Linked DNA regions of Homo sapiens: region 2 is linked to region 1. The links come from fine-mapping of genetic effects on gene expression. A gene starts in region 1. The other region holds a variant in brackets. All regions are shown on one strand. Distances are from middle to middle. Region 1 holds the start of USP34-DT (USP34 divergent transcript). Region 2 overlaps USP34 (ubiquitin specific peptidase 34).

Region 1 (8,332 bases):
CACATAAGCAGTCTGAGCATAGACTGTTGTTCAAAGATGCATCAGGGATCCACACTTTATGATTCTGTTTTATCATTTTTTTTCGAGATGGAATTTTTTTTGCTCTTGTTGCCCAGGCTGGAGTGCAATGGCAGAATCTCGGCTCACTGCAACCTCCACCCCCGGGTTCAAGCAATTCTCCAGCCTCAGCCTCCCGAGTAGCTGGGATTACAAAGTGCCCGCCACCACACCCGGCTCATTTTTTATATTTTTAGAAGAGATGGGGTTTCAGCATGTAGGTAAGGCTGGTCTTGAACTCTGACCTCAGGTGATCCACCTGCCTCAGCCTCCCAAAGTGTTGGGATTACAGGCGTGAGCCACTGTGCCCGGCCTGTTTAATCAAATTTTTTAAACAATGAAATCGCAAATGGGGTAAAAGTTTTCATTGTTAAAAAAATTACAAGATGGGTATTACTTTGTGCATCAAGACCATGTTTCAGGCAGAAAGGGTTAAATGGTATGTTAGCTGAATTTGTCCCTCATCGTATTAGGAATTCTTTTGGGAATTCTTCCCAAAGAACCCATCCTGCAGATTTCTGCTTACATTTCTTTTTTTTTCCAGAGAGGGTCTCACTCTGTCACCCAGGCTAGACTGCAGTGGTATGACCACAGCTCACTGCAGTCTCAATCTCCTGGGCTCTAGTGATCCTCCCACCTCAGCCTCCCCAGTAGCTGGGATTACAGGTGTGCACCACCACATTCCACTAATTTTCTTATGTACTGGAGATGGACTTTTGCCATGTTGCCCAGGTTGATGTAGAACTCCCAGGCTCAAGCAATCCATCTGCCTTGGACTCTCAAAGTACTATGATTATAGTCGTGAGCCACCACGACCAGGTAATTTTTTTTTTTTTTTTTTGAGACGGAGTCTTGCTGTGTCGCCCAGGCTGGAGTGCAGTGGCGCGATCTCAGCTCACTGCAAGCTTTGCTCCCTGGGTTCATGCCATTCTCCTGCCTCAGCCTCCCAAGTAGCTGGGACTACAGGCGCCCACCACCATGCCTGGCTAATTTTTTGTATTTTTAGTAGAGACGGGGTTTCACCGTGTTAGCCAGGATGGTCTCAATCTCCTGATTTAGTGATCTTCTCGCCTCGGCCTCCCAAAGCGCTGGGATTACAGGCATGAACCACCATGCCTGGCCTTTTTTTTTTTTTTTTTTTATGAGACGGAGTTTCACTCTTATCCCAGGCTGGAGTGCAATGGCGCGATCTCGGCTCACCGCAACCCCTGCCTCCCGGGTTCAAGCGATTCTCCTGCCTCAGCCTCCTGAGTAGCTGGGATTACAGGCATGCACCACCATGCCTAATTTTGTATTTTTAGCAGAGATGAGCTTTGTCCATGTTGGTCAGGCCGGTCTAGAGCTCCCGACCTCAGGTGATTTGCTCACCTCAGCCTCCCTAAGTGCGGGATTTCAGGAGTGAGCCAACGCGCCCAGCCACCTTTTAAATTTTTGTAGACACAGGGCTCCCACTATGTTTCTCAGGATTGTTGCTTACCTTTTATCAGGAGGAACTCAATTATGTATGGCCAGCCCTAGAAAAGCCAGATCACCATGATGGTTGGTTTCAACTGCTACCTGAAAAAACGTGAGACCAGCACGTTGGCTCATACCTGTAATCCTAACATTTTGGGCCGGAGGATCAGTTGAGGCCAGGAGTTTGAGACCAGCCTGGGTAACATAGCAAGACCCTGTCCCTACTAAAAATAAAAAACAATTAGTTACGTGTGGTGGAGAGCGCCTGTAGCCCCAGCTACTAGGGAAGTGGGAGGATCCCTTGAGCCCATAAAGTGGAGGCTGTAGTGAACTGTGATCGCACCACTGCACTCTAACCTTGGCGACAGAGTGAGACTTTGTCTCAAAAAAAAAAAATTCAAATAAAAATAATTGGGGTTGTGTTGGCAGGGAAAAAAGGGATACGTGGGAATGTATGTTGAGTGGACAACGAATGTCTGCCTCAGGATCCAAAGTAAGTCTGCAAAAACCCAATTCTGTGAGAAAGACAAGGAAGAAGGGAAGATGATGGTAGAATAGAACTACAATCCTAAGGATCACCTGCTAGTGGGAAACAAAACGGGTTGGGCAGACTGTTTATAGTATCAACTTCAAGCAGCAGAAAGGCAAAGCATTTGGAACCAGGTGGTTCTGGCATGGAGAGATGGGCGTGCCATAACCTCCACAAAAGCTATCGAGAGAATGACTACAGAGCCTTGACAGACACTCTGGTTACCGTTCAGAGATTCTGTACACGATCTTTCGGACTTTGCAGTCACATGTCTATGTAAACACGTTGAACACAAAAATTAGCAAGCAAGGGGTAAGTGCCGGCGTGAGGAAAATTCCCTTACAAGCTTCAGCTGACTGCCCCCTTCACCTGTTCTTTATCTTAATATCCTTGTTATTCGCTCTCTGCTGAAGAAGATTTCTTGCTATTTCAGGTGGGGCTGATGGGCACATCGTGAGGGGCCCTCTTCCGTAAAAACGAGACGATGTCAGGCAAACACTCCTTACCCTGCCATTTCTAGTTACGTCAAGGATCTTACTGCTCCAGGACGGAGGACCTTCAAGGAACTGCAGGGTAGCGATAATCACCGATGCAGTTAAGCCGGGCCCTGGGCTGATTCACTCTCAGACCCCGGGGGGAGTGGCCCTTGCGCCCGAAAGAGGGCTACGGCGTAGACCCGGCCCGGCACCCAAGTTGACTCCTTGCTTCCCGTACCCCAAAAGCCTAAGCGCGGAAGAGGCCGGGGACACCAAAGAAACCCGCACCAACTCCCCGACCCAGGCCCTGGGGAAAAATGGCGAAGCCCAGGGGCGGGGGACAGGACGGAGCGAGTGACCTGGCGCTCCCCGGGCCTCAGAGCCCGTGGAGTGGGTCGTGGTGGGCGACGCCACGCAACCGCGACCCGTCCGTTGCCTCCGCCATCTTCTCCTACTCACCCGGACTCCCCCCGCGGCCGCGCTGGCTTCGCGTTTCCCTTCCGGCCGCTGACAGAGATCCGGGCTGGGCGGGGTGGGCGAGCGCGCGGAGGGGGTGGACCGAGGGCGGGGAGGCCGGACGGAAGAGGAAAGGGAGGGCGGCGAGCCGGCCACGGCGGGGTGTGGAGCGTGCGGCGTGTGTGCGGAGGGAGAGGTGGGGGGCGGAGGAGAGGCGAGAAAGGGAGGGAGGCGGAGGAATGAGAGCGCGAGGCGCCTCTCGTCCGCTCCTAAGCCCGGGCGGAAAGAGCCGAGCGCAGCCCGAGCGCTCTGTTAAAATGGCGGCGGCGTCGGCGGTGGCCGCGGCGTCTGGTCGGTGAAGTGACTCTGCTGCTTCTCTCCCCACCCGCCCCCTCCCCCCCTCTCCCCTCCCCCCGTCCTTCCCCCCCTTCCCCGCCGCCGGCGCCTCGGCGCCCCTCCGGCCTGCGCACCTCCCCTCGCTCCCCTCCTCTCCCCCTCCCGCTGCGGGGACCGCCGGCCCCCTCCCCCATTCTCTTGCTCCCCGCCCCGTCCCCGCCGCCGCCCGCCCTAGTCGCCTCCCCGCCCCGCCGGCCGGCCGGCCCCCTCCTCCGCCTCTCTCCCCTCCCCCCCGCCGGTCGGGATCAGTCAGTGTGATCCGAAGCGGGGGAGGGGGGGGGCGGCGGCCGAACGATGTGCGAGAACTGCGCAGACCTGGTGGAGGTGTTAAATGAAAGTAAGTAGCCGCGGTAGCGGCCTGTCGGGGTGCACGGTTTGGGGTCCTCGCGCAGCTCTCTGGCCTCCCCGGGCTGCCGCGGCCTGCGGGAGGCGACGGCCGGGCCGGGCGGCGTGCGGGCCTAGCGCCCCGGGAAGGTGCGCGGTGGCGCGGCCGCCGCGGCGCCTCGGGCCCAGCCCGGCCGGGTTACCTGGGCGCCCGAGAGGCGGCCGCCGCGGAGCTCCGGCTCGGCCTGGCCCGGGCGCTCTGGGCTCTCGGAAAGTTTCCTCATTACAGGTGTCAATTAATGAAGGCAGTAATGAACCCCTCGCCGCCTTCGCCTCCTTCGCCCTGCCGGGAAGGTGCGGGGAGGTGGGGTCGGAGGACGAGGCTTTCCTCCGCAGTCCAAATCCTCCGGCCGCCCTCTTTGATTTCCAGCGTGCTGCCGAGGCCTCTCTTACCTGCTAATTTTCATTAAACTCCCGGGAGCAGGGTGGTGGTTTTTCCCTCCCTTGCGGGTTTGTGGGTGTCTTAAACACTTCAGCCAGACCTTAAATAGCTGAAAACGAACTGTGATAGTGATGATTGGAACCTTCATACCTATTTTTAAAATAAATTTGTTAATGATGTTTCTTAGTGTAGCATTCACCGCTTTAATGGTACATTCTGTTAAGCAGAGCACTGTACTACACATACCATCCCGGGATAGTTATGGCCTATCTCTCTTGGAAGGAAAGGCCTTTTACCTGGTACTTTACTTTTTATTATTAAAAAGGGTACGTTGATCTTTTCTGGCCTTTTTATTTTATTCTCGACCCTTGCAAGATGGTATTTCAGCTTATAGAAGATATATTGCAAATCAACTACTTCTGGGCGTAAAGGCCTAGTTGGCAGAGGTGAATTAGATGAAGGGATCAATTTACAAAAAGTTGATTGTTGAAAAAATGCTCACTTATGAACAGTTTATGTGGGTTTTGGATTTGTATTCTGTTTGTGATATTTCCACAGACTTTCAGACTATCTAATTTTGTAATACAATTCGCTAAAACAGTTGATTTATAAAATGTACCATGGTATTTGTGTTTGACTGTCACTTTAATGACCAAAGACAATAATAAAAGTGGAAGGGTTCTAACTTAATTTCAACTCCGTATTTACTTCCTGATAGGTGGAATAGGCTTTTGCACATATTCCAACTAGAGGTTCCAGTATTTGTGTCACCCTAAATTATCCTAGAATTTTAAGATTATTTGTGTGTATTTTGAGATACTTTTATTTCTGGCGCAGGCGGTTTACGATATGATAAACTTAAATCCTCAATACTTACTGTGTTTTATATCTCACATACAAGTCGTGTGATTATGATTGTTACGCTCAACTTGGAAAGTTAATCGTTTTGCAATGTAATATGAGGAACAAGTACTTAATTTTGTTGGTGATTTTAAATATCTTTTTTTTTTCTTGAGACAGAGTTTTGCTCTTGTTGCCCAAGCTGGAGGGCAATGGCATGATCTCGGCTCACTGCAAACTCTGCCTCCCAGGTTCAAGCGATTCTCCTGCCTCAGCCTCCCAAGTAGCTGGAAATGTAGGTTCCCCACACCATGCCCGGCTGATTTTTGTATTTTTGGTAGAGACGGGGTTTCACCATGTTGGTCAGGCTGGTCTTGAGCTCCTGACCTTGTGATCCGCCTGCCTCGGCCTCCCAAAGTGCTGGGATTACAGGCGTGAGCCACTGCGCCTGGCTGATTTTAAAATATCTTAAACTTGGAAAATTTTAAACAAAACATCTAAAGAAAGTAAAGTTGGTTTATCTTTTGAAAAGAGGTGGCATCTTGATCATAATGAAAGGTCTTATTTAAGATTATCTGGGAAACCCCTAGAACTTTGGTTAGAAGCACTGAAAAATGCAGTGCATTTATGGAGTGTTAGAAATGTGGAGAATTGAAATAGAATTTAGCTTTTATTACCTTTAAGCAAATACAGTTAGTTCAACCAGCTTCTCAAAATCTGGTCATGTGCACCCTCTAAGAAACCTGTTCTAATGAACAAGTAAGGATTTTCTATTTGTGTGTAAGCCAGTGGACTCTAAAAATACTTAGTTTCTTAATATTGCCTTTGAGGCTCAATTTAAAAGTTTAACTCTTAAACAATAATCTCACAGTGATGCTTCCTTTTTAAAAAAATTTACGGCCAGGCGCAGTGGCTCACGCCTGTAATCCCAACACTTTGCGAGGCCAAGGTTGGCGGATCACCTGAGGTTGGGAGTTCAAGACCAGCCTGACTAACATGGAGAAACCCCGTCTCTACTCAAAATACAAAATTAGCTGAGCGTGGTGGCACATGCTTGTAATCCCAGCTACTGGGGAGGCTGACCAGGAGAATTGCTTGAACCCGGAGGCGGAGGTTGCAGTGAGCCGAGATTGTGCCATTGCACTCCAGCCTGGGCAACAAGAGCGAAACTTTGTCTCAAAAAACATTTTTTTTACTTCAACAATTACATGTGTAGTTTATACCACACTATTAAAAGTTGTTTTTTTTTCTGTAGTTCTTTGCTTATCCGTGGCTATGATGGAGCATGATAATGAACATGAGTGGTTGGAGCTTGATAAAACTTGTTGAAGTAGATTATATGTGTTTCTTGTGATCTCATTTGCAGTAATTACCTATAAAGTCTGCCCTTTTCCCGCCTGTACCTTGTACAAAGATGAGCATCAGTTCAACGTTGATTTAGAAATTCAGAGTTGGCCGGGCAACTCTGAATACAGCTCACGCCTGTATTCCCAACACTTTGGGAGGCCGAGGTGGGCGGATCACAAGGTCAGGAGCTCGAGACCAGCCTGGCCAATATGGTGAAACCCCATCTCTACTAAAAATTCACCAATTAGCCGGGTGTGGTGGTGTAGGCATCTGTAGTCCCAGCTACTTGGGAGGCTGAGGCAGGAGAATTGCTTGAACCCTGGTAGGCGGAGGTTGCAGTGAGCCGAGATCATGCCACTGCACTCCAGCCTCGGCCACAGAACAAGACTCCATCTCAAAAAAAAAAAAAAAAAAAACAAAGTTACAGTCCTCCCAAAATGTGCTCAGAATTCATCTTTAAATACGACACCCTGTAACAGTTTAGCCAGCTGAGAGAAGCAATAAAATTGTGCATATTTTTGGGTGGTGTGTTTCCAGGTCATGCTGAAAAATACGTAATTAGTATTAAAGCAACCTCACAAAACAGTCAGACGTGGTGGTGCGCCCCTGTAATCCCGCCTCGGCAGGAGGCTGAGGCAGGAGGATTGTTTGAGGCCAGGAGTTCGAGACCAGCGTGGGCAACATAGTAAGACTGCTTTTTTTATTATTATTATTTTTTTATTTTTTATTTGGAGACAGAATCTCGCTGTGTCACCCAGGCTGGAGTGCAGTGGCACGGTTTCGGCTCACTACAACCTCTGCCTCCCTGGGTTCAGCAATTCTCCTGCCTCAGCCTCCCAAGTGGCTGGGATTACAGGCACACGTCACCATGCCCAGCTAATTTTTGTATTTTTAGTAGAAACGGGGTTTCACCATATTGGCCAGGCTGGTCTGAACTCCTTACCGTGTGATCTACCCGCTTCCGTCTCCCAAAATGCTAGGATTACAGGCGTGAGCCACCGCGCCTGGCCAAGACTGCTGTCTTGAAAAAACAAACCAAAAACACTGTTTCTTGTGAAATTAACAAACAGTGATCACACTTAGAGAAGGCTACCTGGGCAAACGAGTGTAATAAATTTTTTTTTTTTTTTTTGACACGGAGTCTAACTCTCACCCAGGCTGGAATGCAGTGTCGGCTAGCTGCAACCTCCACCTCCCGGATTCAAGTGATTCTTCTGCCTCAGCCTCCTGAGTAACTGAGACTACAGGCACCCGCCTCCTTGCCTGGCTAATTTTTGTATTTTTAGTAGAGGTGGGATTTTGCCATGTTGGCCAGGCTTGTCTCAAACTCCTGACCTCAGGGGATCTGCCTGCCTGTACCTCCCAAAGTGCTGCAATTACAGGAGTGAGCCAGCATGCCTGGCCTAAAAATTTTGTTTAAAAAATTTTTAGTTGATAAATAATAATTTTACATATTCATGGTGTACATAGTGATGTTTCAATACATAAAACGTATAGTGATCAGTTGAAGTTAATTAGTATATCCATCTCAAACATTTAGCATTTGCTTTGGGAACATTCAGTATCCTCCTAGCTATTTGAAACTGTATCATATATTATTGTTTTTTTGAGATAGGGTTTCTTTCCCATTGCCCAGGCTGGAGTGCAGTGGTATGCTCTTGGGTCACTACAGCCTCCGCTTCCTGGGCTTAAGCAATCCTCCTGCCACATCCTCCCAAGTAGCTGGGACTACAGGCATGTGCCACCAAGCCCGGCTAATTTTTGTATTTTTAGTAGAGATGGGGTTTCACCACGTTGGCCAGGCTGGTCTTGAACTCTTGAACTCAAGTGATCTGCCCGCCTTGGCCTCCCAAAGTGCTGGGATTATAGGCATGAGCCACCATGCCCGGCTTGTATCATATATTATTGTTAACCGTAGTCATTCTGTAGTAGTACTTATTCCTTCTATCTCACTGTAATTTTATATTCTTTAACAAATCTCTCCCTATCCCTCCCCTCCCTCTACCATTC
Region 2 (8,332 bases), 72 kb after region 1:
CTTTTCTTTGTGCTGCTGTGCTATCCTTTCTTAAGCCTTTGATTTTGATTTTTCGTTAATATTTTTTAAAGAGGCACAACTTAGCCAAAATTCTTAGGAGGACAAGATTCAAAACTCATGTGTTAGTATTTTGATAGCTGTGTCTTTAGAAACCTACTCAACACTTTTATTTTATAGAAGAAGCAACTGGCCTACAGAGGTTAAAAGATTTGATTGGGCATATTGCTGAGAAGAGTCCTAGAATCCGGGTCTTACTCTACTGCACTACTTCTAAATCATTTTGAACTAATTACTGTATTCTAAATAATATGGGAACTTGGAGCCACTCCTTCTGTCTCCCTTCCTTCTTCTCTTTCCTATTGTCCCCATCAAAGCTGATATTTTAAAAGGTTCGGTAATTGGACATAAGTAGTACTAATTCAGGATCAAAAGGGGGAATGGCCTAGTTTTAATTTTTTTCCCCTTAAGAGACAGGGTCTTGCTCTGTCTCCCAGGCTGGAGTGCGGTGGTGTGATCATTGGTCACCATAACCTTGAATTCCTGGGCTCAAACGATCCACCCACCTCAGCCTCCTGAGTAGCTTGGACACTAGGCATTCACTACAGTGCCTGGCTAAGTTTATTTTTATTTTATTATTACTTTTTTAAGAGATGGGGTTTATCTGTGTTTATGGGGTTTATCGAGACCAGCCTGGTCTCGAACTCATGGCCTCAGGTGATCCTCCTGCCTTGACCTCCAAAGTGCTGGGATTACAGGCATGAGCCATAGTGCCTTGCCATGCTAGTTGCATTTTTTATCCTGAATAATTATGTGTAATTCTGTGAAATCAGATAATTGCTCTAGTGTTGTAAGTTTTTTTCTAAGTATAGGGAAAAAGATTATAAAAATGGGCCGGGCGCGGTGGCTCATGCCTGTAATCCCAGCACTTTTGGAGGCTGAGGCAGGTGGATCACAAGGTCAGGATATCGAGACCATCCTGGCTAACACGGTAAAACGCTGTCTCTACTAAAAATACAAAAAAAAAAAAAAAATTAGCAGGGCGTGGTAGCGGGTGCCTGTAGTCCCAGCTACTCTGGAGGCTGAGGAAGGAGAATGGCATGAACCCAGGAGGCGGAGCTTGCAGTGAGCTGAGATCGTGCCACTGCACTCCACCCTAGGTGACAGAGTGAGACTCTGTCTCAAAAAAAAAAAAAAAAAAAAAAAAAATAGGGCCAGGTACAGTGGCTCACACCTGTAATCCCAGCATTTTTGGAAGCCAAGACAAGAGGACCACTTGAGGCCAGGAGTTTAAGTCTAGGCTGGGCAACATAGCAAGAGCTCATCTTTACAAAAGAAAAAAAAATTAACTGGGCGTAGTGGTGCACGCCTGTAGTCCCAGCTACTTGGGAGGCTGAGGCAGAAGGATCACTTGAGCCAGGAGGTCAAAGCTGCAGTGAGTTATGATCATGCCTCTGCATGACAGAGTGGGACCCTATCTTTAAAAAAGTAGAAAGGAGAGAAACCACTGCATTTATGTTAAATATACGTATGGTATAATCAGACAGATGAAATATATACATGAAGGTTTTATTTTTTAATTTTTTTTTTTTTTTTTTTTGAGACAGAGTCTTGCTTGGTCACCAGGCTAGAGTGCAATGGCGCGATCTCGGCTCACTGCAACCTCTGCCTCCTGGGTTCAGGCGATTCTCCTGCCTTAGCCTCCCAAGTAGCTGGGACTACAGGCGCGCACCCAAAATGCCCAGCTAATTTTTGTATTTTTAGTAGAGACAGGGTTTCACCATGTTGGCCAGGATGGTCTCAATCACTTGATCTTGTGACCTGCCTGTCTCGGCCTCCCAAAATGCTGGGATTACAGGCGTAAGCTACCGCACCTGGACTTATTTTTTAATTTTTGAATCAGGGTCTTCCTCTGTCACTCAGGCTGGAGTAGTACACTGGCACAATTATGATTCATTGTAGCCTTGAACTCCTGGACTCAAGTAACCCTTCACCTTCAGTGTCCTAAGTAGCTGGGAGTACAGGTGCATGCCACCATGCCTAGCTAGTTTTTCAATTTTTTTGAGGAGGCAGGGTCTTGCTCTGTTTCCTGGGCTGGCTTTGAGCTCCTGGCTTTGGGCAATCTTCCTGCCTCAGCCTCCCAAAGTACTGGGATTATAAGATGAGCTGCCACGCCCAGTCAATTTAGTATTTTTTAGAATAATACCAACGTTGTACAATTATCACTACTAATTCCAACATCACTGAGTTACTTTTAAGCAAAAATTTTGAGACATTGAGTTCTTCATGGTTTGATCATGGAGCAGCATTTTCTTAATTTACATAGAATTGCCTTTCCTCTGGCCGGGCGCGGTGGCTCACACCTGTAATCCCAGCACTTTGGGAGGCCGAGGCGGGTGGATCACAAGGTCAGGAGATCAAGACCATCTTGGCTAACACAGTGAAACCCTGTCTCTACTAAAAATAGAAAAAATTAGCCAAGCGTGGTGGCGGGTGCCTGTAGTCCCAGCTACTGGGGAGGCTGAGGCGGGAGAATGGCGTGAACCCGGGAGGCGGAGCTTGTAATGAGCCGGGATGGTGCCGCTGCACTCCAGCCTGGGCAACAGAATGCGACTCCATCTCCAAAAAAAAAAAAAAAATTGCCTTTCCTGTATAGTTACTCATTTATTTCTCTCTGTTTTCTCTTTTAAAATAACCAAATTTCTCTGCTATAAATAGGATGGGATCAACTCATGTAGTAAATGGGAGGTTTTTGAGGAAAAAAAATGCAAGACTTTAAAAATCATTGATAAGTTTATTAAAGCCTTTCTCAGCGATTACCTAAAATAAGAACTTTTGAAAAATACTGTTAATACAGCTTTTTTTTTTTTTTTTTGGGAGACAGTGTCTCGCACTGTTGCCGAGGCTGGAGTGCAGTGGTGTTATCTCGGCTCACTGCAACCTCTGCCTCTCAGGTTCAAGCGATTCACCGGCCTCAGCGTCCCGAGTAGTTGGGATTACAGGCGCCCGCCACCACGCCTGGCTAATTTTTTTGTGTTTTTAGTAGAGACGAGGTTTCACTGTGTTGGACAGGGTGATCTCCAACTCTTGGCCTCGTGATCCGTCTGCCTCAGCCTCCCAAAGTGCTGGGAATTACAGGCATGAGCCACCGCGCCCGGGACCGTTAATTCGTCTTTTAATGAGACTTCCTAGTGTTGTTCTTAGTGTTTTTTTTAACCTATAGATGTGTGTTAATTTTTTATATACTACTTAAAAAATGAGATTATAACATTTTAGGATGCTAGCTTTATGTATTCATATTGGAAATAGAGTGGCAAAACAGTTCCCCTGAATCACCAAAATAGATGTAATCAAATCTGAGTAACACTGCATACCAGGATAGAACTCAATTTTTTTTTTTTTTTTTGAGACGGAGTTTTGATCCTGTTGCCCAGGCTGGAGTGCGGTGGCATGATAACAGCTCACTGCAACCTTCGCCTTCCGGGATTCAAGCAATTCTCAGGAGGCTGAAACCTCCTGAGTAGCTGGGATTACAGGCATGCGTCACGACACCCAGCTAATTTTTGTAGTTTTAGTAGAGACCATGTTAGGCTGGTCTTGAACTCCTGACCTCGTGATCCACCTACCTAGGCCTCTCAAAGTGTTGGGATTACAGGCATGAGCCACTGCACCGGCCGTTAGGAGATTTTTTAGCTGTGCCCATGTTAGGCACTAGAAATCGTGGCTCTAAGATTCTAGCATGGTTCACCTGGTCCATGATTCTGTATTTAACAATACCACAGGAGGTCTTAAATTCTGGACTTTTTGAAGACCATGAAAAAGTTCGTTGAGATTAACATAAAGCTTCACCTCTGGCCCCGGTTGTCATAGCCAGGAGTGGATTTAGGAGGTTTAACACTTACTTTGAGACTTCATTTCTCTAAGGACATTTTTTGTTTATTTTGAAATGTTCTGAGTTCTGTATGATTGCTTTCAATCCATGATTTTCAGACTTTATTTCAGCAGTGTAACTTAAATATCTAAAATAGGTGATGGCAATGATGAATGGGTTTCTTTGGTAGCTTTTTTCAGATGAAAGTTTCTAGCTAGCTTTCTGATCATAAAAGCAGTTATTTTCTCTCTCCTCCCTCTTTCTCCTTCCCTTTTCTCCCTCCCCTTTCTCCCTCCCCCGACTTTCCCCTCTTCCCGCTTCCGCCTCCTTCCCCCGCTTCCGCCTCCTTCCCCGCTTCCGCCTCCTTCCCCTGCTTCCGCCTCCTTCCCC[C/TGCTTCCGCCTCCTTCCCCC]GCTTCCGCCTCCTTCCCCCGCTTCTCCGTCCTTCCCCCACTTTCCCCTCCTCCTCCCTTACCCTTTCACCCCCCTTCTCTCCCTCTCTTTCTGTCCTCCCCCATCTCTCTCCTCCTTCTCTTTCACCAGGTCTCACTCTGTCACTCATGATCGAGTGCAGTGGCATGAACATGGCTCATTGCAGCCTAGACCTCCCAAGTTCATGCAATCCTCCCGCCTCAGCCTCCTGAGTATCTGGGACAACAGACACGCACCACCATGCCTGGCTAATTTTTAAAAATTTTTAATAGAGATTGGGTCTCGCCCGTGAGTACGAGGCTAGTCTTGAACTCCTGGGTTCAAGCAGTCAGCCTCCCACAGTGCTGGGATTATAGGTGTGAGCCACTGCACTCAACCTAAAAGCAATCTTTTTTTTTGGAGGCGGAGTCTCGCTCTGTTGCCCAAGCTAGAGTGCATTGGTACAATCTTGACTCACTGCAACCCCCCTCCCCCAAGCGGGTTCAAGTGATTCTTGTGCCTTAGTCTGCTGAGCAGCTGGGATTACAGGCGTGTGCCATCACCCCTGGTTAATTTCTTTTTTTTTTTCTTTGAGATGAAGTCTTGCTTTGTCACCCAGACTGGAGTTCAGTGGCACGATCTCAGCTCACTGCAGCCTCCGTCTCCTGGGTTCAGGCAGTTCTACTGCCTCAGCCTCCCGAGGAGCTGGGACTACAGGTGTGTGCCACCACGCCCAGCTAATTTGTGTATTTTTAATAGAGATGGGGTTTCACCATGTTGTCCAGGATGGTCTTGATCTCCTGACATCATGATCCGCCCACCTCGGCCTCTGAAAGTGCTGGGATTACAGGCGTGAGCCATTGCACACAGCCAGTTTTTGTATTTTTAGTAGAGACGCGGTTTCACCATGTTGGCCAGGCTGGTTTTGAACTCCTGACCTCAAGTGATTCGCCGGCCTTGGCCTCCCAAAGTGCTGGGATTCTAAGTGTGAGCCACCGGGCCTGGCCAAAAGCAGTCTTTTCAGCGTGAATTTTTTTTTTTTTTTTTTTAGATGGAGCCTCATTTTGTCTCCCAGGCTGGAGTGCAGTGGTGCAATCGTGACTCACTGCGACCTCCACCTCCTGGGTTCAAGCAGTTCTCCTGCATCAGCCTCCCAAGTAGCTGGGATTACAGGTGCCTACCATCACACCTGGCTAATTTTTGTATTTTTAGTAGAGACAGGGTTTCAGTATGTTGGCCAGACTGGTCTAGAACTCTTGACCTCAAATGATCTGCCCACCTTGGCCTCCCAAAGTGCTGGGATTACATATGTGAGCCACCATGCCCGGCCTCAGTGTGAAAAATTAAATACAGAATATACAAAATACAGACTTTGAAAGGCCTTTGAACTTCTCTTTTTTCTTCATTCTCTTCTCAAAAAAAGTTGAGATATTTCCAAACGTAAAAATTATGAACATCAGATCATGATCATAAATTTTCTTTCAGAAATGTAACAGGTGTTTTGTCTGTATGTAAGATTCTACCTTATTTTCAGACAGCATTTTAAAGATGTAACCTTAAAAATCACTTGATTAAAGTATACAGTTTATTTTCAGTAGATTTACAGAGTTGTGCAGCCATCATCACTTTCTAATTTTAGAGTATTTCCATCATCCCCCAAAGATCCCTCATGCCTTTTTCACCTTATTATTTTTAAGAGTTAGGACTGGGCGAGGTGGCTCATGCCTGTAATCCCAGCACTTTGGGAGGCCGAGGCGGGTGGATCATGAGGTCAGGAGATCGAGACCATCCTGGCTAACACGGTGAAACCCTGTCTCTACTAAAAATACAAAAAATTAGCCGGGCATGGTGGTGGGCGCCTGTAATCCCGGCTACTCTGGAGGCTGAGGCAGGAGAATGGCGTGAACCCAGGAGGCAGAGCTTGCAGTGATCCGAGATCATGCTCCTGCACTCCAGCCTGAGCGACAGTGCGAGACTCCGTCTAAAAAAAAAAAAAAAATTAGCTGGAATGGTTATGCCATTCATTTAGCCATCAAATTGATGGATGTCAGTTGTTTCTAATTGTGGGTTAATGAGCATCGTTATGCGTATATTTTCCAGTACTAGTATGATTAGTTCCTTAGAACAAAAAGCTAGAATTGCTGGGTCAAAGGCAATGTGTATTTTAAATATTGAAGGATATTGCCAAATAGCCTTCCAAAAAGTTCATACGAACTTATACTCACCAACAATGGATAACTGTGCTTTTAGGCAGTTGAAATCTTATGCAATGGAAGCACGTGTAACTCTTCAGTATACCTCTAGGGAATTCCAAAGCAGTTTCAAAAATCATGAAAAAGTTTGTTGAGAAACTTTTCAAAACAAAAACCACTTAACTATCATGTATTTTTATCAGAATTACCTTGAGTTTTATTTTAAACCTTTTTTTTTTTTTTTGAGACAGTTTTGCTCTGTCACCCAGGATGGAGTGTAATGGCGTGATTTCAGCTCACTGCAACCTCTGCCTCCCAGGTTCAAGCCATTCTCATGCCTCAGCCTCCTGAGTATTACAAGTGCCCACCACCACACTGACAATTTTTTTATTTTTCGTAGAGACAAGGTTTTACCATGTTGGTCAGGCTGATCTTGATCTCCTGACCTCAGGTGATCCACCCGCCTCGGCCTCCCAAAGTGCTGGGATTTTTTTTTTTTTTTTTTTTTTTTTTGAGACGGAGTCTCGTTCTGTCGCCCAGGCGGGAGTGCTGTGGCGCGATCTCCGCTCACTGCAAGCTCCGCCTTCCGGGTTCACGCCATTCTCCTGCCTCAGCCTCCCGAGTAGCTGGGACTACAGGCGCCCGCCACTGCGCCCGGCTAATTTTTTGTATTTTTAGTAGAGACGGGGTTTCACCGTGGTCTCGATCTCCTGACCTCGTGATCCGCCCGCCTCGGCCTCCCAAAGTGCTGGGATTACAGGCGTGAGCCACCGCGTCCGGCCGGGATTTTAAACATTGATTTTTTTAAGGCAAGATTACTTAATGTTTAATAAGGCAAAATAGTGTGTAGTATGTACTGTGGAATGGCTTCTACTTAAAGGAGGACTAAAATACACCTTAGAGCTGAATCCTATTAGCTTCAGTTAGGAGTATCACTGCTTATCAGGAGTAATTGCAAAATAATCTGTTTATTCGGTTTTTATAAAATCAGTCTTTTATAGAATTGTATTTTTTAAAGGTTAGTAGTTGTAACCTAATTTTACTTGCTTTTTTTTTTTTAATTAGGATATATCAACTCAAGAAAGTAACATATTAGGGGCATTCTGTGATATGAATGTAAGTGTTTACCTTTTTTATTCTTTTATGGAAAATTTTATTTTTTTAACAAAGCCTCATCCATATGTTTTATTATTTATATATGTCTTTTGAGTTTCTCATCAGTATCTTTCCAGTATTGCTAAGATAAAAATTATTTGTACGTTTTCAAATAATGACATGTTTTCTTTATTTTCCCAGGATGTAGAAGTACCATTGCATTTGCTTCGTTATGTATGTTTGTTTTGTGGGAAAAATGGCCTTTCTCTCATGAAGGATTGCTTTGAATATGGAACTCCTGAAACTTTGCCATTTCTTATAGCACATGCGTTTATTACAGTTGTGTCTAATGTAAGTATTGTTTTGAATTGATCTTAATTTTGGGAGCAATGTCTAGCATATCAGTAACATGAATTTTATGCTCTGAAAAGGAAGGTTTTGAATGATTTGCATGTGTAATTTTTTTTTATTTTGACAAAATGAGTACAGAAACGTTTTAACGATCTTTATTATTAAGATTAGAATTTGAATAAAATTAAGTTACCTGTTTTAAAGCTAAAAGGGGTCATGACTATCTATAATTATCTATTTTATCTAAGATAGGTGACTGCATAAAACTTTTGCTAATTTTCATTTTTTAACTTATTTTTTTTTTTTTTTTTTTTTTTTTGAGAGAGAGGGTCTCACTCCGTTGTTTAGGCTGTAGCTTCTACCTCCTGGGCTCAGGTGATCCTCCCACCTCACCCTCCTGAGTAGCTGGGACTAGAGGTGTGCACCACTGTGCCTGGC

Evidence for each region. PIP is the estimated chance that this variant, and not a neighbour inherited with it, causes the effect.
Region 2: its variant is fine-mapped to the expression of USP34-DT in whole blood (INTERVAL, PIP 0.99).

What each region holds. Positions count from the first base shown.
Region 1 is chr2:61,466,024-61,474,355 of GRCh38, reverse strand. USP34-DT (USP34 divergent transcript) reads right to left here and starts at 3,260. Exons shown (of 3, transcript NR_185882.1): 1 at 2,977-3,260. USP34 (ubiquitin specific peptidase 34) reads left to right here and starts at 3,269. Exons shown (of 80, transcript NM_014709.4): 1 at 3,269-3,706. The coding sequence starts at 3,664. RefSeq lists silencers at 3,018-3,327, 3,358-3,437, 3,528-3,947 and enhancers at 6,991-7,490, 8,019-8,332.
Region 2 is chr2:61,394,415-61,402,746 of GRCh38, reverse strand. USP34 (ubiquitin specific peptidase 34) reads left to right here. Exons shown (of 80, transcript NM_014709.4): 4 at 7,514-7,564; 5 at 7,745-7,894. Among named protein-coding and RNA genes, the nearest start is that of SNORA70B, 19 kb to the left of the region's middle. The variant C/TGCTTCCGCCTCCTTCCCCC (reference allele first, on the strand shown) is at 4,259.